6 separate regions of the Homo sapiens genome follow, and all the other regions are reported to be linked to region 1. The links are microRNA targets in miRTarBase. Many come from high-throughput screens and were not tested one by one. Region 1 holds a microRNA gene; each other region holds the end of a gene's coding sequence. Distances are from middle to middle.

What was found. Region 1 holds the annotated microRNA hsa-miR-340-3p (UCCGUCUCAGUUACUUUAUAGC, at 1,562-1,583, opposite strand). A microRNA usually pairs through its seed, bases 2 to 8, with sites in the 3' UTR of a target mRNA and lowers its output. Matches are read on the target gene's strand: a 7mer-m8 pairs with bases 2 to 8, a 7mer-A1 pairs with bases 2 to 7 and ends in A, and an 8mer does both.
Region 2: the mRNA of ZNF442 is a reported target of hsa-miR-340-3p. Seed matches in the 3' UTR shown: 7mer-m8 at 1,341-1,347.
Region 3: the mRNA of EP400 is a reported target of hsa-miR-340-3p. The part of its 3' UTR that is shown has no 7-base or 8-base seed match.
Region 4: miRTarBase lists ZBTB8B as a target of hsa-miR-340-3p. The part of its 3' UTR that is shown has no 7-base or 8-base seed match.
Region 5: miRTarBase lists NUDCD2 as a target of hsa-miR-340-3p. Seed matches in the 3' UTR shown: 7mer-m8 at 1,217-1,223.
Region 6: the mRNA of STOM is a reported target of hsa-miR-340-3p. Seed matches in the 3' UTR shown: 7mer-m8 at 1,249-1,255.

What each region holds. Positions count from the first base shown.
Region 1 is chr5:180,013,758-180,017,757 of GRCh38, forward strand. MIR340 (microRNA 340) reads right to left here and starts at 1,640; the gene lies at 1,546-1,640. The region is part of intron 2 of RNF130 (ring finger protein 130); the gene reads right to left.
Region 2 is chr19:12,346,219-12,350,354 of GRCh38, reverse strand. It overlaps ZNF442 (zinc finger protein 442), which reads left to right. Exons shown (of 6, transcript NM_030824.3): 6 at 1-4,136. The coding sequence ends at 654. It also overlaps a transcript of ZNF563 not described here. Among named protein-coding and RNA genes, the nearest start is that of ZNF563, 15 kb to the right of the region's middle.
Region 3 is chr12:132,077,365-132,081,489 of GRCh38, forward strand. EP400 (E1A binding protein p400) reads left to right here. Exons shown (of 53, transcript NM_015409.5): 53 at 37-3,096. The coding sequence ends at 309. Among named protein-coding and RNA genes, the nearest start is that of SNORA49, 48 kb to the left of the region's middle.
Region 4 is chr1:32,484,572-32,488,707 of GRCh38, reverse strand. It overlaps ZBTB8B (zinc finger and BTB domain containing 8B), which reads right to left. Exons shown (of 4, transcript NM_001145720.2): 4 at 1-3,607. The coding sequence ends at 3,290. Among named protein-coding and RNA genes, the nearest start is that of ZBTB8B, 22 kb to the right of the region's middle.
Region 5 is chr5:163,450,665-163,454,800 of GRCh38, forward strand. NUDCD2 (NudC domain containing 2) reads right to left here. Exons shown (of 4, transcript NM_145266.6): 4 at 1-3,386. The coding sequence ends at 3,303. It also overlaps a transcript of CCNG1 not described here. Among named protein-coding and RNA genes, the nearest start is that of NUDCD2, 7.4 kb to the right of the region's middle.
Region 6 is chr9:121,337,819-121,341,818 of GRCh38, reverse strand. It overlaps STOM (stomatin), which reads left to right. Exons shown (of 7, transcript NM_004099.6): 7 at 411-2,832. The coding sequence ends at 617. Among named protein-coding and RNA genes, the nearest start is that of STOM, 30 kb to the left of the region's middle.

The DNA.
Region 1 (4,000 bases):
TATAGCATAAATTGGTACTTCTTGCACTAATCTAGGAACATTCATGGAGTACCCACTGTCTGTAGAACTAGTGCCAGGAACAAAAACAAGTACAGGATACCAAGCTTTCTAATCTCACTGAGACAGGGGACACACAGCTGGTAACAGAGCTACAAAGTGCCAAATGGTGCCACCTTTTATTAGTGACATCTGAAACTAACTTGGGTCTTATGTCCAGACTTGAGTGGAGTTGAGGCTCCTTGCTAGTTTACCCCAGAACTCTTCTGGAAATCAAACGTTCCAGAGACAGGTCCAGGCTTCAACATTCTGGACCAGTTTGGCATCGAAATACCTCCAGCCTCTAACAGTTGTCCAGAGGTCTGCCCACAAGCACAGGCTATGCAAGTTAATTACGAGGACAGTCTTAAGTTGCCTTATAGTTACCTAGACCTTTCCCCTACATAATTTCCAGAAGTAGTAACAGTGAAGGAATTGAATACCTCTTCCTATGGACAGCAGGAAACTGCTATCCCTTTCCTCCTCCACAAAGGAAATAACTTCCCACTGTCTTTTAAGGAAACAGAGAAACTTCTATCAATCTATCAGCGATTGTCCTTTCATAAGCTGAAGCTGCCGGTGGCAACATGTAGCTTCTACATTTGCCTTCTCCAGAGAGCCCCTGAGAGAGACTAGGGGTCATTAGAAGGGAAATAAATATTTTATTTTGGGAAAGAGAAAATTATAACCACTTATTTGAATTTGAATAAGGTTTGTACATATCAATGTAAACCAACAAAACAATCAAGCAGAAGTCCCCAAAACTTGTCCTTTTCAATCCTTCTTCAATGAATAACACATTGAAATATTTGGTTTTACATGTTTCATTTACCATATTTAGCTAAAAGAACCATCTTTGTGTTACATGCAGTCACAGAAGACTACACGCAACTGAAAAGAAATTCAACAGGGCTGGGCGTGGTGGCTCATGCCTATAATCCCAGCACTTTGGGAAGCCAGGGCAGGTGGATTGCTTGAGCTCAGGAGTCCAAGACCAGCCTGGGCAACATGGTGAAACCCTGTCTCTCACAAAAACAGGAACATTAGCTAGGCATGGTGGCACATGTCTGTGGTCCCAGATACTCAGGAGGCTGAGGTGGGAGGATCACTGGAGTCCAGGAAGTTGAGGCTGCAGTGAGCTGAGATCACGCCACTGCACGCCAGCCTGGGTGACAGAGCAAGACCCTCAAAAAAAAGAAGAGAAATACAACAGTAAAAGGAGTTTTATGGAAAATGTAACCCAATGGAACATATACCTTTTTACTACCTTACTCAAAATTGTTACAGCCACTTTATTAGAACAGCAGTTTACCAGAATACCGATTAAAAATCTACAAAAAACTATAAAATTAAAGCAAGCAATAAACATCTAATTAATATCTAATTACCTTTCTGAAATAAGAGTTGTGATCAGTAAATTAGAGACAATCACAAAATAATGCTAAACCGCTTTAAATTTCCCTTTAGAAATCTCTTAAAATGTTGTTCAACGGGCCATGATCTGTGGTATAAGATACCAGGTATGGCTATAAAGTAACTGAGACGGATCCCACAAACGACATATGACAATCAGTCTCATTGCTTTATAATCACACCAGGTACAAACGGTTTTAGAAATCAGTTGAGGCTCCCTCTTGAAGACTCAAGCTGGAAAAGGAGTAGGGAAAGGAGTAGGGAAAGGAGTAGGGAAAGGAGTAGGAAAGGAGTAGGGAAAGGAGTAGGAAAGGAGTAGGGAAAGGAGTAGGAAAGGAGTAGGGGAAGGAGTAGGGAAGGAGTAGGGAAAGGAGTAGGGAAAGGAGTAGGGAAAGGAGTAGGGAAAGGAGTAGGGAAAGGAGTAGGGAAAGGAGTAGGGAAAGGAGTAGGAAAGGAGTAGGAAAGGAGTAGGGAAAGGAGTAGGAAAGGAGTAGGGAAAGGAGTAGGGAAAGGAGTAGGAAAGGAGTAGGAAAAGGAGTAGGAAAGGAGTAGGGAAAGGAGTAGGGAAAGGAAAGCTGAACAGGTAGCCAAGGAAACCAATCCATGTGATTCTATTCAAAGAACACTAAATAAGAACACCAACTAATTTCAACGGGAAAGCTGTTTGGGAAAAGAAGTGTGTAATTATTTCAACCATCCATTCAACAATATTTATTGAGCACATACTATGATCAGGCTCCTTTCACCTCTTAAAGAGAGTAGAAAATTACCTGCTCTTGATGCAAAAATCCACACGCCCTCAGGAGCAAAGGGGGAACCTTTTGGACTAGGAAGAGAAGCCGCTCGCGGTGGCGTCATTACACCAGCACAGAGAAGAGCCGGGCAGAGGAGCCCGACCCTGCCGATCGGGCAGGAGGACAGCAGAACGAAAGCCCGCCACCAACTTGCAAAGGACTGGAGTTTTAGGTCTTAAATCTTTTACAGAATCTGGCGAAAGTTATATAGGAGTCCCCTCCTAGGAGAAAGGGCCTTCTCCCCATACTCCACCCCTAAAGCCTGATAGGGCTCAAAGACCCTGACCTAAAGCTGCCTCAGACACTTGACTTTTAAGGATCTGAGGAGCTCTGGCCCAGTTTCACGCCAAAGGAAATGTAGGCTTCACAATAAAGGGCCGGTCAGAGGAGGCAGTGACTGAAAAGAGTGAAGAATAATTAGACTGTAACGCTGTAAATATCAAAGCACATTTGGGACATGCCCCACCACTCCCATGTCCCAGGCCCTGGGCAAACACTGCTAGTAAGTCACGGATGCGGCCACGCTCCCACGCACTTCCACGTCTGGCCGCCAGTACTAACTGTCAGAGATGGCAATCCAGTGAAAGCCCATCTGTGATCCCTGCTTCCAACTATTTTCTTGAGAAACTTCCCCCACTGTTATTCTTTAACAGGAACTTCTGTTTCCACACTGCTTGAGTCTGGCTACTTTAATAAACAATTCTATTCTTTCCACTTTCATCCTGAGAATTTTCAAACCCATAGAGCAGTTCCAATACTGTGAGAACACTCATGGACCTTTTATTTAGATTTGTCAACATTTTGTCCTTTCTATATGTATTTATTTTTGCTGAACCAATTAAGAGTAAACTGCAAACACATGACATTTTATTCTTAAATACTTCCACGGTCCCTCCTAAGAACAAGGCTAGCTACGTGGCCACAATTCATTTACTTATCCTCAAGAAATTTAACCCTGTGTTCTTTAATAGATGGTCCATTTTCAGGTATCTGTGGTGATGACTTTAATAGCTGTTTAACTTGTTTAGTTTTGTGTCCAGGATTCAATCGGGGCTGTCGGCATCATGCTTAGCTGTCATGTCTCATTAGTCTCCTTTGATCTAGAATAGTTCCTCAGTCACTTCCGGTCCATTCATCACAACACTGACCTTTTTAAAGAGTCCAATCCAGATGTTCTGACCATGCCCCTCAATCTGGATTTGACTGTTTCCTAATGATTAGATCTCCAAATTAAATATTTCTAGTAAGAATACCACAAGGTGATGGCGTGTCCCTCCTCAGCTCGTCACTTCAGGAAGTGCAGGCCGGGTTGTACCTTTATTTTTGGTGGCAAATTTTATGACTTGGTTATTTTGGTATCTGCCAGGTTTCCTCACTGTAAATAAATGTTTTCCTCTTAATTAATAAGCAATCTGTGGGCTGATACTTCCAGATTGTGTGACTAGCCAGTTCCCCAAAAACCTTTCACTCAATGCTCTCAGCATCCACTGGTGTTTGCCTGAATCTGTTACGACAATGGTATTTGTAAAATTCTAATTCCCTAATGCTGTGATTTCTTCTACATTTTGTAAACTGATTCTATAATCAAAGGCATTAACAACACTTTCTACTTATCTTTGTTTCCCATTAAAAAAACAGAAATGCTGGGTGGGCAGTTTTTCGGAAAAGAGCCCCCCATCCCCATCAATTCTATTTTTTAATGAGGAAAAAAAGTGGGAAAATATGATAATACTGCTATAATCCTGACTACAAAATCA
Region 2 (4,136 bases), not on the chromosome of region 1:
GGGAAAGCCTTCATTTATCCCAGTGTATTTCAAGGACATGAAAGGACTCATACTGGTGAGAAACCCTATGAATGTAAAGAATGTGGTAAAGCCTTCCGTATTTCTAGTTCCCTTCGAAGACATGAAACAACTCACACTGGAGAGAAACCCTATAAATGTAAATGTGGGAAAGCCTTTATTGATTTCTATTCCTTTCAAAATCATGAAACAACTCACACTGGAGAGAAGCCATATGAGTGTAAGGAATGTGGGAAAGCATTCAGTTGTTTCACATACCTTTCTCAACATAGAAGGACTCACATGGCTGAAAAACCTTATGAATGTAAAACATGTAAGAAAGCCTTCAGTCATTTTGGTAACTTAAAAGTCCATGAAAGGATTCACACTGGAGAGAAGCCATATGAATGTAAGGAATGCAGGAAAGCATTCTCTTGGCTCACTTGCCTTCTGCGACATGAAAGAATTCACACTGGAAAGAAATCTTATGAATGTCAACAATGTGGTAAAGCCTTCACTCGTTCTCGTTTCCTTCGAGGACATGAAAAAACTCACACTGGAGAGAAGATGCATGAATGTAAGGAATGTGGGAAGGCACTGAGTTCTCTCAGTTCCTTGCATAGACATAAAAGGACTCACTGGAGAGATACTCTATAAATGTGGAAAAGCATTCATTAATTTTATTTCATTTCAGAAACGTGAAAGAAATCACATAGGAGATAAGCCTCATGAATGCAAACACATGGTAAAGCCTTAAGATGTTTCTTTTGAATATGGTTATCCCCTAACCATATGCAGGGGATTGGTTCCAGACCCCCTAAGCATACCTAAATCCACAGATGCTGTGTTCCTTTTATAAAAGGACATTTGCATGTAACCTATCCACATCCTCCTGCATCCCATAAATCATGCCTAGATTACTTAATTTTTCACCAACCCAAAGCTTTTGTAAAAGTAAAAATAAAAAGTAGGTTACTAAAATACCTCATGTGTTGTAAAAGCTATGTAAACAGTCATTTTATTGTATTTTTTTTAGAGAATCGTGATATGAAAATAATCCTGTGCTGTTGAGAACAGACCCAACCATCACAGGCCTGCCTACATAGTACATGTCACCTAGAATGTTACAGTTTCTTTTTTTCTTTTTTTTTTTTTTAAGACAGAGTTTCACTCTTATTGCCCAGGCTGGAGGGCAATGGCACAATCTCAGCTCACTGCATCCTCTGCCTCCCGGGTTCAAGCAATTCTCCTGTCTTAGCCTCCTGAGTAGCTGGGATTACAGATGCATGCCACCACACCCAGCTAATTTTTTTTTTTTTTTTTTTTTTTTTGTATTTTTAGTAGAGACGGGGTTTCATCATATTGGTCAGGCTGGTCTCGAACTCCTGACCTCAGATGATCTGCCTGCCTTGGTCTCCCAAAGTGCTGGGATTACAGGCATGAGCCTGTAATCTACAGTTTCTTTTTTTTCAACAATCATAGATTGCTTTTATTTAATGACCTGGAATCGTGTGTTAACACTTATGAAAATCCTGATCCTTCTTGCTTGATAACCCAAGGATGATGATGATGATCATGATCATGATGATGCTGATTACAGTATGGTGCCTAATATGATTCACTGAGGTGACTAGATGGGTGGCACTGTAGATAAACAGTGAGACATCAGGCTCACTTGAATCTTGACAGGATGTCAGGATGATCATCTGTGTTGGATGAACCAGGTTCTGATTGCAGATGCTGAGTTTGGAAGAGACTAAATAATACTAATGTCAGAATCTGTTCAGCATGAGGGCTGAAGATGTGTACACACTGAAGGATCTGTCTTCATATTTGCAGATATTTAGTTAGAAACATTGTTGTAGGAAGCTGGTTCTTTTTCTTTAAATATCCTTGCAGTGTTTGTTGGCATGTTATCCCTTGGGTGACACAGAGGTTTTGTTCCATTGAAGGATCTTACTTGAGGATGGCAATCTTTATTTTATTTTTATTTTTATTTATTTATTTATCATTTGAGACTGAGTTTCGTTCTTATTGCCCAGTCTGGAGTGCAGTGGCGCGATCTCGACTCACTGCAACCTCCACCTCCCAGATTCAAGCGATTCTCCTGCCTCAGCCTCCAGAGTAGCTGGGATTACAGGCACTCGCCACCATGCCTGGCTAATTTTTATTTTTAGTAGAGATGGGGTTTCACCATGTTGGTCAGGCTGGTCTCGAACTCCTGACCTCAGGTGATCCACCTGCCTCGGCCTCCCAAAGTGCTGAGATTACAGGCATGAGCCACCGTGCCCTGCGAGGATTGTAATCTTTAATACTTTTCACCTTGCAGAGGCTGTAGATGCCCCAAAAACTGCTGCACATGTTTCAAGTGTCACATCTTTGATATTACCTCTTCTAAGTCTTCTGCATCATCATTATCATCATTATCTGCAGAGAATTTCAGTATATCTTCGAGTTCCTTGTTAGTATTTATGCTCTCTTATTTGTGTTGGGATAGAAAGATTAAGGAAAGGAGAGATGAGAAGGTGGCTCAACAGTTGAGACAGTTTTATTGGGAGTAAACCTGAGAAGGGCTTCCAGCGGCAGGGTCAGGTGCAAACTTCTCTTACAGCCTGAGGCTTTTTTAAAGGGCCCAGTGGAGAAGTGTGCTTTGAAACAAAATTCTGTTAGGGAGGGGTTGGGGAAGTCCTGGCTGTTCTGTTACAGTTAGGGCCGTTATTCTCTGTTGAAGTTATGGGCGGGGCTGACATTTTCAGTTTTGGCCAGGTGGCCAAATAGAAACTTAAAGCTTAGGATGGTGGAGTGTTATAAAGATGGCGGTGCTCTTGTCCTGTCAATGTGTTCCTCAATAAAGTCTTCAAGCATGTCATAGATTGTTTTCCCCACCAACCTCCCTTGCAGCATTTGAGATATTCCTGATACTTCATCAATAGTGGAGAAGCTCCTGAAATCATTGACTTCCTCACTCCATAATGGTTTCCAACACCCAATGAAGTAGTAGGAGGAAAACATGGGTTTCTTCTCCTGGAAGCCTCCAGAAGAAGGTATTTCAATATGGGGAGAGTGGTCAGCTGTGTCACAGGTCACTGAGAATTTGAATAAGACAAGGAAAAAGGGTTGACTGTAGATTTTGGCAAGTATTTGGTCACTGGGGGCCTTGATAAGAGCTGTTTCATTGAAGTATTCATGAGAATAACTTGTAGTGAAATATATCTCAAATAGACCTCCACGATGTTGCCTAGAGGGCAGTGTTACCCTTTGAACTACCAACATTAACCACTGGAACTGCTCATCTGGAAGCCTCTTACAGTGCTGGTACAAACTAGAATACACAAAGGAAGGGATCATTTTATACGTGTTACTGTGCTACTTGCTCTATCTACTTAGTGTTCCATACATGTAATTACCTATTCCATCCTATCCCAAAGTACTGAAAATCTCCATTCTACTTTCTCTGTCTGTGAATTTGACTATTCATAGAGAGAGAGATATGTGGAAGTATGCATGTGTCCTTCCATGTCTGGCTTATTTCACTTAGAACGTTTTCAAGGTTTATCCATGTGGTAGCATGTATCAGGAACTCATTGTTTTTGTGTCTGAATAAATTTCCACTGTATGGTTAAAGCATACTTTGTTTATCCATTTTTATGTTGATAAACATGGGTTGTTTCCACAGTAATAATTTGACTGCTATCAATAAGGCTGCTGTGGATGTGGTATGTCTATGTCTGTGTGAGTCCCTGCTTTCAATTCTTTTGGATATATGTATCCCTAGGAGTGTAATTGCTGGTTCACAGAATAATTGGTGTAAACCTTTTTCAGGAACAGGTATATTGCTTTACAAAGTGGCTACAATGTTTTACATTCTCTCCAGCAATGCATAAGGGTTTCTATTTTCCACATTGTCACATATACTGGTTGTCGTATTTTTTTCATAATAGCCAATTAATGGTTCTGTACTGCTTTTTCATTGTGGTTTTGATTTGCATTTCCCTAATGACCAATAATAATGCACATTGGTTTTTGTTTTTGTTGGTTGTTTATATATTTTTTGAACCAGTTTGTTTTAAAATCCTTTGCTCATTAAAATTGAGTCATTTGTGTTTTGTTGTTGAGTTATAGGAATTCTTATTTAAAAT
Region 3 (4,125 bases), not on the chromosome of region 1:
CTGGGCAATGTGTGTTTTCTGACTCTCTCGGCTCAGGCTTCTCCACAGACTGTGGCGCTCACGCAGGCGACGGCGGCCGGGCAGCAGGTGCAGATGATCCCTGCAGTGACCGCGACTGCCCAGGTGGTTCAGCAGAAACTCATTCAGCAGCAGGTGGTGACCACGGCGTCGGCCCCGCTCCAGACTCCAGGCGCTCCCAACCCAGCCCAGGTGCCCGCCAGCTCCGACAGCCCAAGCCAGCAGCCCAAGTTACAGATGAGGGTCCCTGCTGTCAGGCTAAAGACACCTACTAAGCCTCCGTGCCAGTAGTCAGGGCAGCAGGGCTGCCTCTCATCTAAAGCAAAACTACCTTCCTCACAGAAAACGCTTTATTAGTGAACCTTGGGACCATGTCACGCAAGAGATTCAGCACTGGGAAAGATATAATTGAAACAAAATAGTGTAATCATTTTATTAAAATGCATCCCACACTGCAGGACAAATGGTCCTTATGGAGTGCCGCGTTCTCTGTACTACGTGGCTCATGGAAAAAGTGACAACATGGCTTCCTCTAAATCATTTCACCTTTCAGTCCCCACCCGCACCCGTCCCCTAGAGCCATAGTACTGTGTTCTGAAAGCCATTTAGAATTTCTTTGTGAGCATGTAGTGCTTTGCACGCCACAGAAGCCGTCTGCCGTGTGTGAGGAGCATACAATGGACTTTCTAAAGATAAGGCGTGGGCTTCCACAGTGTCTGCCAGAGTTTAGTTCTTTATACCTTACTGAAAAATGCCTCGTGGTCTTCGCAGAGGGGAAGGCCTGTCTAAAGTCAATCATCCGAGATGGGTTTTCCATTCCAAAGAAAGGCAATATGGTTCCTTCCTTCCCTCCTAAAATATGACTTAACTTTTAAGAGAAATGTTCTGACACCCACCTAAACACACAAGGCACGTTCCTGGCCTGTGTTCAAGGGAAATGATCAGTCATTGCATTGTTATTCCAAAGAGCAGCCAACAGTGGCCTCCCCCAGGCCCTACCCTGCAATGGGATTCGCTTTCATTTAATGGAAACTTCTGGGACTGATGCCCAACTCAGTGCACTCAAGACGCATCTCCAGTTTTCGGGGGAAGCTGGTATTTGACATAGTGTGTTAAACAGCTCCTGAGAACCTTTGGGACACTCTGCCATGGCTGGCGTGAGGCCCAGAGGACCACGCAGAGGCAATGGTAGTACAGATGTCACAGCTGAGGGTACGATGAGGCCTGGGCTCAGTGAGCCAGGACGAATGTGACAGACACCCCTTGCTGCCACAGTCAGCCCTTTGACGAAGGTGGGCTGGTGATTCTGGAAGTATTGGCTATAGCGGTGGGCCCAGTCAACTCTTCCTTGTGGACTTACGACAGCAGATTTTCTCTAGGATAAGCTTGTGTGGTTCTGCCAGTGAAGCAGAGAACCACCTGTGCTGTTGTGGAAGGCGTGCCGTTGAGGGGGAAAACGAAGCCCAGTATTTGCTACTGTTTTTCCTTTTTTTACTATGACAGGAAAATAAATGCAATTTTAGTGGAATTGATTGACAGTGTCTCCTTACTTTGAAGTTTTCACCAAAGCAAAAAGGTCCATATCCAATAGTATCCTTTGTGCTGTGGCTTGATTTTGGCCTATTTTACATTATTTGGTCCAGGAAATTAGGTTATATTAGGTTTTTTGTATACTAAAAATCAGTTATGGCACAATAAAGATTTTCTGTTTTTAAATTGTATTTCATCTGCTTCCTCCCCATTCTCTCACTTTAAGTGACATTGAGGAAGGTATTCTGTCCCACAGGTTTCTGTGGACAGCGATACAGCAGGAGTCAGTGAAATCAACTGGGGAGCTCACTTGAGCTCTTGATAAGAAATGTGGAGAAAAGTAAAAACCAAGCTTTGAAGAAACAGAAGAAATTAATCTTTTAGTTAGTTGAACATACCAAAGCAGAGGACTGGAATCTGTTTGTTCTAACCAACCCGTTCTCCCTGGCTTGGCACGTGCCGTGAGAGCGCAGCTTGCCGGAGGGAGGGCCGCTGTGTGCGCCTCACATCTGGCTCCCAGTGGAAACTTTTACTCCTCCTCATCCGCAGATGTGATAGAACTGAAGTATCTAGGAATTCTGCCTTTGTCATTTGTTTTAATTTGTGTGCCCTGTTCATTTTTTTTGTCTTTCCCAAATCTTGGTAGTCTCCTTATAGTTGAAGATAAAATGTTGAGTGCACTTATTTTAGAATATCCTAGACATAACTGTCTAAGTAAAAGCGCTCTATTAATCTAAAACACTACAAGAGAATTTAACACCATCTCTCAAATGCTTTTTTGGAGAGCTTAATGGGATTCTGAATATTTGCAATGTGGAGTTTCCGCCCCGATCTCACGTCAGTGAGGGTCTCCTGTCTCTCAAGTGTGTTTCCTTTGGCTGTTCCCTAATACAAAACACGGACATATTTTTACTCGTAGCACTCAATTTAGTAACTTCTAGATGCTACCGTTGACCTGAGTTAAATTCATTTAGTCGTGTACGTAAAAACTCTCCTTTTAGTGTGTTATTTTCTTGGCCTTCCCTTTTAAAGGTTAAAGTTTCTAACCTAAGAATTAAGTACGCGTTCAGGAAGCTGTTGTCTAGGCCTTCCCCTTGTGAATCTGGGTTCATTCCAATACGGCAAGTAAGAGTTGGAAACTTTGAGAACACAGACTATAAAGGCAGCAGCCCGAACACTGTCAGACTCTAATTGGCGACCCTGGGAAACAGTTGCCCTGCTATTCTTTAAAGAAAGACGTTTATTCTGATGATAAAAACAGTTAGCCAGACTGTTTTTAAAGCACCTGGCGGGAAGCAGAAGGTTGGATCCAAGCCCTTGTTCAGATTTGGTGCCTGATAAGACAGGGGTTTCTCTTTTTGTGACCTTTATTATTATTATTTTGTTAACTGTTGTAACCAGTTAGCTGTTGTGTTTTAAGATAGAAAGGAACAAGACTAAAATTGTAAATACTTTGTAAACATCAGCATTTGTACTTGAATAGTAGGATTTTAAAGGGCATTGATAGCATACCAAACAAAAGGCAAAATAAAGTGACCTTTTTATATATTTTTTCATTTTGTCTTTCATAGAAAACTGGTATTTAAGTTAAATGAGATGCTGAATTTTTCATTTGTGTGAAGAAAAAACCAACAAGTAATGTTGGAGCCAGAGGTGTTCCCCTCACCCACTCTTCCGTGGCCATAGAAGGACCTGGAAGGAACAGAAATCACATTCACCAAGTCCACCAGGCAGCCGCTTCCCAAAGCCGCACGTGGAGGAAAGAGCTGGCACCGCCCTGCCCCATGTGGCCTGCCACCCTCACAGCACCCGTCGTCAATGTCCTGGGGGCCACACTGGCACCAGTGTCCTTCCACACCCAGTCTGTGTGCCCAACTGGCACCAGTGTCCTTCCACACCCAGTCTGTGTGCCCAACTGGCACCAGTGTCCTTCCACACCCAGTCTGTGTGCCCAACTGGCACCAGTGTCCTTCCACACCCAGTCTGTGTGCCCAAGTAAGGGCAGGGACACCGGCTCACAGGTGCTCACCACCGAAAACGCCTGTGAGCAGATGGCCTGCGAGTTGTTGCTTCTCTTTTTCTTCTGCTTTTAGACTTTTCTTCGTTTCGTTTTAAATCTGATTACAAAAATCAACGTACACTTTTAATTGAAAACGCACACATTACGCAAAGTAAAGAAGCATCCCAGAAGCCCCTTAGTTTCTGTATCTTTTCTCCCACCACAAAAACGGGGGTGCACGGGCACTTGGCCCTGCAGCTTTGGGCTTCCACCTCCGGTCTTCCAGATTGAAAGCTCCCAGGGTCTGGTTGCACACTTCGTGTCTGCAGGTGATAGTGCAGATACCAGGGTGGGCGAGAAAGCCAGCTGCAAAGCCCGGCTGGTGCTCCCTGGCCTCTGGGGGTCTGTACTGCAGTGCCTGGTGCACCTGCGGCTCCATGCCTACCAGCCACATAACCAGGGGCAGGTGACTTCCTCCTTCAGGGCCTCTGTGTCCCCATGTCCCCTCTCCTAAGGTGGCTTGAGGATCCAGTCCAATGTTGGGTGCTGCACTTGGTGTCTGTCTTTTATACTCCCAA
Region 4 (4,136 bases), not on the chromosome of region 1:
CCTTTAAAAAATCCTACTTTATCTTACAGCAGAGTTTCTCAACATTGGTATTACTGACATTTTGAATTGGAGAATTCATTGTTGTGGGGACTGTCCTGTGCATTTCAGGATGTTTGGCAGCTTCCCTGGCCTCTACCCACTAGATGCCAGTAGCCACCTGCAAGGCACGAAATCACCCCCAACTGAGAATCACTGTCCTACAGTGAAATCTCTAATGTAAAATGTTTTACCCAGGGATATGAAGAGGTCACGGAATCACTGAAGAGGATCATAGCTCCACTGGAGAAAGCAGGCAAAGAGGCTGAACTATGAGGTAGAAAAGTCATTAAAACATCAGAGATAATTTAAACAGAGAAAGCAAAAATATCAAACACTGTTCCTGGCCAAGTAAATCTTCTACACATCCATTTAGGTTTCCTTTTTGCTGAGATCCCTCTTTTAAAATAACAGCAAATATATGTATACATTTTTGGAGACAGTTTCGCTCTTGTTGCCCAGGCTGGAGTGCAGTGGTGTGATGTCGGCTCACAGCAACCTCCGCCTCCTGGGTTCAAGCGATTCTCCTGCTTCAGCCTCCTGAGTAGCTGGAATTACAGGCATGCGCCACCATGCCTGGCTAATTTTGTATTTTTAGTAGAGACGGGGTTTCTCCATGTTGGCCAGGCTGGTCTTGAACTCCCGACCTCAGGTGATCCACCTGCCTTGGCCTCCCAAAGTGTTGGGATTACAGGCGTGAGCCACTGCGCCTGGCCACAGCTAGTATTTTTATTTCAGATAAGACAAATATCTCTGGTCCCTGATAATTTTCAATGAGTAACTCTTGATCTAGAATATTTTTCTTTTATTTATTTATTTTATTATTATTTTTTTGAGACAAGGTCTCACACTGTTGCCCAGGCTGGAGTGGAGTGGCACGATTCCAGCTCACTGCAACCTTTTCCAGGCTCAAGTGTTCCTCTCGCCACAGCCTCCTGAGTAGCTGGGATTACAGGCACATGCCACCACTCCTGACTAATTTTTGTATTTTTGCTAGAGACGGGGTTTCGCCATGTTGGTCAGGCTGGTATCGAACTCCTGACCTCAAGTGTTCCATCTGCCTTGGCCTCCCAAAGTGCTGGGATTATAGGCGTGAGCCACCGCACACAGCCAAGAATGATATTTATCGAACTACCTGTGATAAGAGAAGTTTTAAATTTTCCATTCTACTGCAGACCAATACGTGGTCCTGCTGTACAGGCTGGTATCCAACCTCTGCACCATGTGGCCCTCTAGCTGACCAGAACTGAACTGGTCCATACCTCACTCAAGAAGACAAAGCCATGAGTCACAGCAATGTCAAAGTGTTATCAACATTTCTATATGTGTATTCTTAATTTCTGACTTTCCTTGTAGCAGACTGGTAGAAAACAGTTTACAGAACAGGGCCTCTCTGTGGGCCAGAGTTTGAGTTGCACTGTTCCAGTTTTAACTACTATTGAGAAGTACGACTTAAACACCTGTCTAATGCTTTGGCTAACATTTACAAGCCAATTTATAATGTTTTTGACTTTTTTGTTGTTCAAGAGGTAGAAATAAAAGTGACTTTTACCACCTTTTGAAAGACAACTACACTTAAAGGAAGACAAGAAGATTTCTTTTAAAATCCATTTTGGATATTTTAACATAAGACAAAATTATGGAAATTGCCTTCAATTACATTCCGAATTCCTAACACTGCCTGCCCTTTAGCCCTTTAAAGAGTTCAGCCTCTTTTGTTACAATAATTGTGTGGCTGGAAAGTGGGCGAAAGGTAGACTGCTTTTAAAAACCTGTTCTGCTACTAACCTTCCCTTTCCCTCATGAAGATCTTTTAAAAGATGAACATTTTAGAAATGTTACTTGGCATTATGGGCTTATACTTTCCCTCCAATTAAAGTTCTAGGCAAGGAGGTAGAAGGCAGGACTCAACTCCAAAGGCCGGACTCGGACATGGACCAAATTGAGGACTAGCTAAAACAGGGCGGTGGTGGGAGGGTGGTGCAGGAAGCAGATTTCCATAAGAAACACTTATCACTGTGCCATGTCAATTACCATTGCCATGGCAACACCTGGAAGTCACTGCCCCTTATCATGGCAACCACCCAGCGGCTTGGAAGTTACCACCATTTTCCTAAATATTGCTGCATAATCTGCCCCTTAATTTGCATGTAACTAAAAGTGGGTATAAATATAAGTGCCGACCTGCCTCTGAGCTACTACTCTGGGCACACTGCCTATGGTGTAGCCCTGCTCCACGAGGAGCGGCCCCTTAGCTGCTGTTGGGCACTGCTGCTTCAATACAAGCTGCTGTCTAACACCACTGGCTTGCCCTTGAATTCTTTCCTGGGTGAAGCCAAGAACTCCTCTGGGCTAAGCCCCAATTTTTGGGCTCACCTGCCCTACATCAGCATAAACTAAGTAAAAGAATGCCAGAGGCAGCTACATTTCCAAGTTACACAGCTCCAGCTTTTGGAAATTGCTGGAAAAAGTAGGGGAGCATTTTGAGTTTTGCCCAAATGAGTTGTTTTATGATAACAGAACAGGTTGTATGTGTAGAATCGTCAAATGCCAAACCAGACAGGGAAACCATCCAGACCTGGGGTCATAGCCTCCCTTCTCAGGGCTAACTTAAAATTTAATTCAACTGGGCAAGTCAGGATGCCATAATGAGCCTTTCAGATCATTCCCATGTTCGTCTGCCCATAAGTATTCCAAGCCTTTAAAATTGTTCTAGATTTAGGGAGTACCTTTTATGATCATGTAGCCAGACCGCCCTGCCTGCTTTATATCAATGAAGGTTTCTCTTTAATACTTTGCCAGAAAATTTAATGTGGAATTCATTAGGAAAGGCTTGGCAAAGGTAAACTTGATCCCAAAACTTAATGGTTTTTAGAGAAAGAGGATGATAACAAAGGAATGCAGAGGACTGAATCAATATAAAAACAAGCCTGGAGATTTTCTTATCTTTCTCCTAACCAGAGTTTGGACACACAGCAAGAAAAACAGGAGACCTCAGGGCCTGCTTTGACTCACTCAGAATTAAGGAGTGGCCAGCAAAGCCCTCAGAAACCAAGGGCACCACACAAAAAGGTTATCTGTCCTTTGAGTCACAAAATCCAACCTCTATCAGATAGTCTAATAAAAATGCACATATAATAACAGTGAAAAAATGTTCCTCTCAGGGTTCCACAAAATTGGACAAATGGTATCTTTCAACAACAGAACGAGCACTAACAAGTTTTAAAACCTCCTCTTCCCCACCAATTTATTGCTACGTAAGTGTCTCTCGGTCTGATAAGTTAGGCTGAATTTGTGGTTTGTCATCAGAATCATCTCCAGCAGGGTCATTTTCCTCACCCGACTCCACATAGATTGGCCAGTCATTGTCTGTGTCGCTCTTTTCTTGGCTTTCAGATGAAGCCTCCACCAAGCTAAGGTTGATGGGCATCAAATCATCATCATCATCGGGTGTGTCTGTAACGCAGGTGCAGCTGTCACACAGCCCGAAGCGCCGCAGCCCCTGGGACAGGTGACTCGTGAATGTTCTCCTGCAGCCCTTGCAGATGATTGGACGGTTGGATCTGTGGACCTGTAATCACAAGCAGACACAGTAGATGTCACAGAAAAGGAGATGAGTGTTTTCCACAAGGCCCCGTGTGATCTGGCCCCTGCCTGATCCTCCCGATTCCTTTTTCAGCACTCCACCTGCATTCTCTGCCACAGTCTTTGTATTAGTCTGTTCTTGCACTGCTATAAAGAAATACCTGAGACTGGGTAATTTATAAAGAAAAGAGGTTTAATTGGCTCACAGTTCCACAGGCTGTACAGGAAGCATGATGCTGGCATCTGCTTGGCTTCTAGGGAGGCCTCAGGAAACTTACAATTGTGGCAGAAGACAAAGGGGGAGCCGGCACTTCACATGGCCAGAGCAGGGGGAAGAGAAAGAAGGGGGAGGTAACACATATTTTCAAACAACCAGATCTCATGAAAACTCACTATCACGATGACAGCACCAAGTAGGGATGGCGTTAAACCATGAGAAACTGCCCCCATGATGCAACCACCTCCCACCAGGCCCCACTTCCAGCATTAGGGATTACATTTCAACATGAGATTTG
Region 5 (4,136 bases), 17 Mb from region 1:
CAAGTATTGGCAAGGATGCAGAGAAAATGGAACCTGCATACACTGCTGGTGGGAAAGTAAAAAGATGTAGCTGCTTTGGGAAACAATGACAGCTCCTCAAATGATTAACATAGTTATCATATAACCTAAAAATTCTACTCCTAGGTAAGAAATGAAAACACATATGCACATAAAGACTTGTACACGTTTATAGCAGCTTTAGTCAGGACAGCCAAAGGGTGGAAATACCCAAAATGTCCAACTTACAAATGTATAAACAAAGTGCTACAGCCATACAATGAAGTATTTTCAGACATACTAATGAATGTGCTGATACATGCTCGAATATAGATGAACCTCTTAAGACATGTAAAGTGAAGGAAGCCAGTAACCAAAGACCACGTATTATGATTCCATGTACATGAAATGTCCAGAATAAGGAAATCTATGAGATGAAAAGAGGTAGTATGGATGGCGGGGGATGACAGGAGAAGGATAAAAGCTAAACTATACAAGGTTTCTATCTGAGGTGATGAAAACATTCTAAAATTGATTATTGGAATGGTTGCATTTATCTGTGTATATACTAAAAGCTACTGAATTACACACCTTAAATGGGTGAAATGTATGTTGTTACAATAAAGCGTTTTTCTTAATTATATATGATCCCATTTATAACATGCTTGAAGACAAAAATATGGAGATGGGGATTAGATCAGTGGTTTCCAAGGTTTAGGGGCTGGGAGTAGGGTGTGTAGAGTACAAAGAGAGCACGAGAGTTTTTACGGTGATTGAACTCTTCAATACTCTGACTGTGGAGGTGTTTACACATATCTATACTTAAAATTCACCAAACCATACACCAAAAAAGTTAATTTTACTTTACTCAAAAAATTTTGTTAAATGTCAAAGAGAATAAAATTAAAAGAAAAATAGCCTCTTCCCCCGACAATTCATTCCTAAAATGAGCAAGATAGGAATCACAGGGTGAATGGACTGCCATGGCCTGGAGTGAGGTATTAGGGTCCAGGCAGGATGAGGAGGACATTCCTGCTCAGCATAGGATGCGAAGCCTAAGCAGGGTGAGGAAGACATTCATGTGGGGAGATGACCTACAATAGAGAATCAGGCCAGGCGCAGTGGCTCACACCTGTAATCCCAGCAATTTGGGAGGCCCAGGCGGGCGGATCACCTGATGTCCGGAGTTCGAGACCAGCCTGACCAACATGGAGAAACCCCGTCTCTACCAAAAATTAAAAATTAGCCAGGTGTGGCAGCGCATGCCTGTAATCCCAGCTACTTGGGAGGCTGAGGCAGGAGAATCGCTTGAACCCAGGAGGCGGAGGTTGCAGTAAGCCGAGATCGCGCGACTGCACTCCAGTCTGGGCAACAAGAGTGAAACTCCACCTTAAAAAAAAAAAACCCCACAAATAATCAAATAGGAATCAGGTTTCTCACTGGTACTGAAAACGGTTATAAATGTGGAGAAGGAAAAAATGAAAATGAAGCCCATGGGATCAGAATTTATATGTGAATTCATGGTTTTCAATATACATAGATGCAGAAATATAGATGTAAAGACATGCATTATATATACACACCAACGGCAATTGCACACTAGCACAGATCTTGGCTTTTAAATATTACTCACTAAAGAGAACCCAGGCTCTACGGAAAAATGGCTGATTCTTGGGTTAGGTCGAGGACAGCATGAGAAGCCTGGTATATCTTATGCCAGAGAGTAACAAATTCATTGAATAATGATGGGAATGTGTCAGAAGGACACAGAGGCCACCCAGAATGGACTTCTACCAGCCAAATGTACAATAATTTTGAGCACCAATGTAATGATAATAGGTTTTTTAACCTGCTGAATAAAATAGAAAATAATGAGTTTATAGAGATACGATAAATTTAAAGTCTGATCAGAAACAAGGTAGTATTTTGCAACTATCTTCTCAAGAAATAATTATAAAAATAACTACAGTGGAGAAGTCTGGCAGACACTACCTTAATCAGTCATCTAAGAAACACCATCAGAAATGAGACAAACTGAAATTATTAAACAATGACAGGATGCACTTCTATCACATTCCTGCCAAAGATGAATAACCTCAATCTAATCATGAAGTATCAGACAGAACTCAAAATAAGGGGTGTTCTACAAAACTAGCCCATAATTGTCAAAAGTACTAAGTTGTAAAAGGAAACAAATGAGAATTTGTTCCAGAATGAAGTAAACTAAAGACAGCTGACATCTAAATGAAAGGCATGATTCTGACTGGATCCTCTTGCTATATGGACATTATTGGGACAATCAGTTCAATGTGAATGAAGTGAAGATCTGAGGATTAGAGGGTAGTAATGTGTCAACGTAAATTTCCTGATTCTAATGGTTGCATTGTAGTCATGTAAGATAATTTGAAGCAGATAGTAATCAGTAATGAGGAATCATGTCTTCAACTAAATCACAAATGGTTCAGAAAGAAAAAAATTATCTGTAACTTTTCTATGCATGAGATTTAAAATTTTTTCAAGAGTTAAAAAGGGCAAAAAATAAAAAGGACATAAATAGGATATTGAATAAAATGTCTATAGACAATTCCTACCTATATGCCTAAATCACTTACAATCAAAATGATGCCACTGATATACAATTAGTGACCTTACTTTGCTTTCTGCCACAAAGGACTCACCTAATTACCATGATCACACTTCTCTTTTGTGTTAATCCACTTCTATTGTTAGGGTTTTAACTATTTTTAAACTTCTTGACATAAAGTAATCCCTCAAGTAATAATATTCTAATTAAGAAATTTACATTAACTCTTAATTTACTTAAAATACATTTATGGACTTTTTCCTTTATTAAAATTGTTTTCAGCACTATAATTTTGTGTGAATTGTTATACTTAGACAAAGGGGTACACAATTCCTATTTAGAAAATTTTATTGAATATCATACTTATCAAAAGAAAAAGTTAATTTTCCCCAAAGGCACCCTTCATTTCACATGATCTATACTCTAATGTTCTTTTGTATTAAAAATATGGTTAAATATGGAATTAGTAAAATGCAGCATATAAAACTTCATGCTGAGCAAAAACAAGTCCAAAACAACTTTACCATATATCCATAGAATAGTTCCCACAGTACATTTCCTATGTAAATTATGTTTGAATGCAATTTTTAGAACCATTTTAAGATACATTTTGCAATCTGTTAACTGTAGGCATCCGCATTTTTCTTCCATTACATAATCTGTTTATCTGATTAAGTTGGCAATATCTGCTAGGATCCACAGAATGCAGGAAAAAAAGCAGTTATTTCTCAAGGTTTGAGAAATCTGGTCCACCTTTAGTGTAGTTTCCTGAGATTTCTGCTCCACTGAAGTCAAAACCAGGATTCTAAAAGATACAAACATATATATAATGAAATAAAACTTATAAGGAAAAATACAAGTACAAACTGGCAATTGATAAAAAAGGATATATAAATGACCAATAAATACATGAAAATATAACAGACTTCACTGTTACCACCAAAGTAATATTTAAAATTATGAGGCATTTTTCAACTCTCCCAGTTACAAATATTTAGACATCATATGTACACTACAATGTTGGCAAGTGTATGGGGAAACATATACTTCAATAAAAGTCTGTAGTTATATTTAATAGCTAGCATTTTTATTTTATTTATTATTATTTTTTTTGAGACGGAGTTTCGCTCTTGTTGCCCAGGCGGGAGTGCAATGGTGCGACCTCAGCTCACCATAATCTCTGCCTCCCAGGTTCAAGCGATTCTCCTGCCTAAGCCTCCCGAGTAGCTGCGATTACAGGCATGTACCACCATGCCTGGCTAATTTTGTATTTTTAGTAGACACGGGGTTTCTCCATGTTGGTCAGGCTTGTCTTGAACTCCCAACCTCCGGTGATCCGCCTGCCTCAGCCTCCCAAAGTGCTGGGATTACAGGCGTGAGCCATGGCGCCCAGCCTATAGCTAGCATTTTTTGAGAGCTTTCTATATGCCACACAAATTTCTAAGAGCTATACATATATAAGATATTTAACCCTCACAACAGTCCTGTGAAGTACTATGTCAGGCCTTAGTCTTTTTGGTGGGCTATTTCGTTTATCCAACAAACATTTGTTGAG
Region 6 (4,000 bases), not on the chromosome of region 1:
TCAAAAAATATTTATAATGACCTGTCAGCTTTCAGTTTAGTAAGGTACTCATCAGAGAATTGGAAATGCTGCTGACTTGCAAAAGGATTTGCCTGCAGTCATTAAAGTTACTTGCTTTCTCAATCCTGCACAGTATTTTGAATTATCCCTTTGTTTGTTACCCTGGAAAATGGGAGAAAGGCTATAGTAAAAGAGAATGTCTTGATCCAGGCACTAGTCAGGCAAGTCAGTTTCAGAAAAAGAAGCATATGGAAACTGAGTATGTAGAAATTGATTTTCTTAAAACTACTCTGGCATACGCCCTAGAAAGTTTTGTGGACCACCTGAGGTATACATACCCCCGGTTGAAGAGTGCTGTGTGTCCCCATGAGGTTTTCTCCAGTTCAACCCCTCCTTTCACCTGTCCATAGGTTATTGCAGCCGAAGGAGAAATGAATGCATCCAGGGCTCTGAAAGAAGCCTCCATGGTCATCACTGAATCTCCTGCAGCCCTTCAGCTCCGATACCTGCAGACACTGACCACCATTGCTGCTGAGAAAAACTCAACAATTGTCTTCCCTCTGCCCATAGATATGCTGCAAGGAATCATAGGGGCAAAACACAGCCATCTAGGCTAGTGTAGAGATGAGCGCTAGCCTTCCAAGCATGAAGTCGGGGACCAAATTAGCCTTTAACTCATAAAGAGAGGGTAGGGCTTTTCTTTTTCCATATGTCAATTGTGGTGTTCCCAGAATGTATAGCAGTTATAAAAATAGGTGAAAGAATTGTTAGCTTGTAAATACTGAGAGATTGGTGATTTATATAAGGTAATCTGTTAGTCTTAAAATAGTTAAAAGTTTGTATTTTTAGATTATTATGTAGTAGGTTAGATCCCTCTTGTTTTGACTTCCACTGACTCATTCTGAACCCCCTAAGCACCCAGGCCAGAGGCAAGAACCTGGGCTGTAACTGCCACCTGACACCGCTGACTGGCTAAATGCTTTGCAGAAAGTGATGACCTTACACCACAACCAGCTTCTCCAGGTCATATGTGCCTTACCTCCAGAGAGTCTTTTTTTTTTTTTTTCTGAGATGGAGTTTCACTCTTGTTGCCCAGGCTGGAGTGCAATAGCATGATCTCGGCTCACTGCAACCTCCGCCTCCTGGGTTCAAGAGATTCTCCTGCCTCAGCCTCCCCAGTAGCTGGGATTACAGGCTCATGCCACCATGCCCAGCTAATTTTTGTATTATTATTATTGTTTTTTAGTAGAGACGGGGTTTCACCATGTTGGCCAGGCTAGTCACGAACTCCTAACCTCAGGTGATCCACCCACCTCTGCCTCCCAAAGTGCTGGGATTACAGGCATGAGCTACCACACCTGGTTTGGAGAGTCTTAATTAAGGAAATTTCCCTAATGTTCATTTATTTTCTAAATCCAGACCGTGTTTCAGAATAATCCTTACTTGAGAGTAGCCATTTTCTTGCCTGTACTTGTCAGAACTAGAGGAAATAGCCAAGACTAATGAAAAAGATTACTCTAACCCTTAAAAGACTTTTAAATTCACTACTAGAGTGGTCATTTTAAAAATACATCCATGTTTTAACTTATTTGAGCCTTCTTTATGAGTAAATGATTCCTCCTTGTTCTGTCTTTCAAACCAGCTAAATATTTGTCACAAAAGTGCTTTTTTCTCACTGTTGCCTATTTTCATATATCAGGTTTTAAATAGTTTTAATTTTTTAATAAAATTTTCTCTACGTTCTATATGCAATTGTTATATATCTATTTGAATAGCTGAAGGACTAAAATACTTTTTTAAGAGATAACTTCAGGAAACCATTATATTTTACTATCTGCATGCTGTTAACTGTGGTACACTGTGAAATATGTTGATTACAAACCCATTCATTACATAGTATAAGGAATTCACAGTATATTGACTATATAGTGTCTAATGATCTTGGGCAGATACTGTCAAACTTACAATATCTATATAGATGTAGGTCTTTTTAAATTTACCTAGTCATTCTTCTATCATGTATATTGATGCTGAAAGAGGAACTGGTCAGCTCCTCTGGACAACAAATTCTTAGTCTATAATATTAGGAGACATCTTCTGTTTTGCAAATGTCTGTGAATCTGAGCAACCTGGCATTCTGCTTACTGGCCAGAAAGCTGGCGGGTGACATTTGTAACATTTCCTCTTTGAGACTCTGAGTTCACCTAGAGAAGTCTAAGCATAACAGCTTTCTTTCCCAGCACGAGCCTTTATAGCTCTCTTTAGCTCAACCACTCTGTCCATCCAGCCAATGGATGTCCCTTCCCCTGTACCCCAATTTCAAGCTTATTTTAGGAAGCCTTGAACTACCATGTATCCTGGCTCCTAGCTGAGTTTATTAGAGGTATGGAGCAGTGCAACTTAAACTCAAGTTGCACTTACATTTTGAATTTTAAAATGATGGTTTTATCTGTTGTGTGAAGTGGTTCACCCTTGAGGACCAGGAGCCTCCATATCCTGACTGAAAACCTTTTCTGAGACTTAGAGTAACAGTGCTTTTGGTTCCTTGAGTTCTCCTGTCTCCAGATACCAAATGACCTTGACTTTTCTGCCTTGTGAATTCGTAGTCCAATCAGCTGAAATTAAATCACTTGGGAGGGACGCATAGAAGGAGCTCTAGGAACACAGTGCCAGTGCAGAAGTTTCTCCAGGTGGCCTCCCTTTCCAACAATGTACATAATAAAGTGTATGCACTTTCACTAATATTTTTGGGGTGAGAGTCTGTTTCGGCCTGTATTGAATGTCTGTGGATTTCCGTTTTCAGAAGTAGTACATTAGATCCTCCGGTTCTGAGCTGGCTGGTTGGCTTCTTCGTGTGCTTTGTGGGCCAGGGGAAGGGGACAGGCTGCTGTGGGCCATCTGCTGTCTCCCAGGTCCAGGCACCCTCTGGTGCACTGGCCCACACATTTTCCCTGGGGAGTTTCAAGATCCACACACACCCTCCACCACCACCACAAAGCTTTAACTGACTTCATTTTCTTTTGCCTTCCTCCAAACAGGACAGGAACCCACTTCTTGCTGTCACCCAGTTAATCACATAGACATAGCCTTTACTTAAAAAGAAACAAATAATGATAAAAAACCAATGTGTTTTACCTGCAACATCTGACAGAACTGTCTTGAATTAGTGGCTACCATTTGGGAGCACCAGTCACTCAGCTCTGTGCACAAATACGTGTATGTACATTCTATCATTTTATCTCAAAATGGTTTGATAGACACTTTATTATCACCATTTTGTAGATGAGGACACTGAAGGCTCAAAGGTTAAAACAGCCAAAGTCACATGGTCGGAAAGAAACAGAGCTGGGATTCAAACCCAGATCTGTCTAATGCCAAAGATTTGTGAGGTGTATCAGTGTATCTTCGTGTGACACTGCCTGCCTCTAGTGCCCCCATCCACACACCACCACCACCATTTTGTAGATAGATCACAACTTTTCCCAAGACTATCAAAGTTCATTTGTCTTTACATTCACACCTAACTGGGCCCTAAACTTAAACTTTTGTTTTGGGCCATCCAATTCAGCCAAAGTTCACTATAAAAAGAGGAGAGTCAATTGGGCATTTGTTTGTTTTTTTTTTTTCTTTGAGATGGAGTCTCGCTCTTGTCATCCAGGCTGGAGTGTAATGGCGTGATCTTGGCTCACTGCAACCTCTGCCTCCTGGGTTCAAGCGATTCTCCTGCCTCAGCCTCCTGAGTAGCTGGGACTACAGGCGCATGCCACCACGCCCGGCTAATTTTTGTATTTTTATTTTTAGTAGAGATGGGGTTTCACCATGTTGGCCAGGCTGGTCTCGAACTCCTGACCTCAGGTGATCTGCCCACCTCGGCCTCCCAAAGTGCTGGGATTACATGTGTGAGCCACTGCACCCGGCCCGATTGGGCATTTGTAACCACAAATGTCATAACACACTGTCCTGAGCAGGAGGAAACCAGTGTTCCATAGACTCTCAGCTT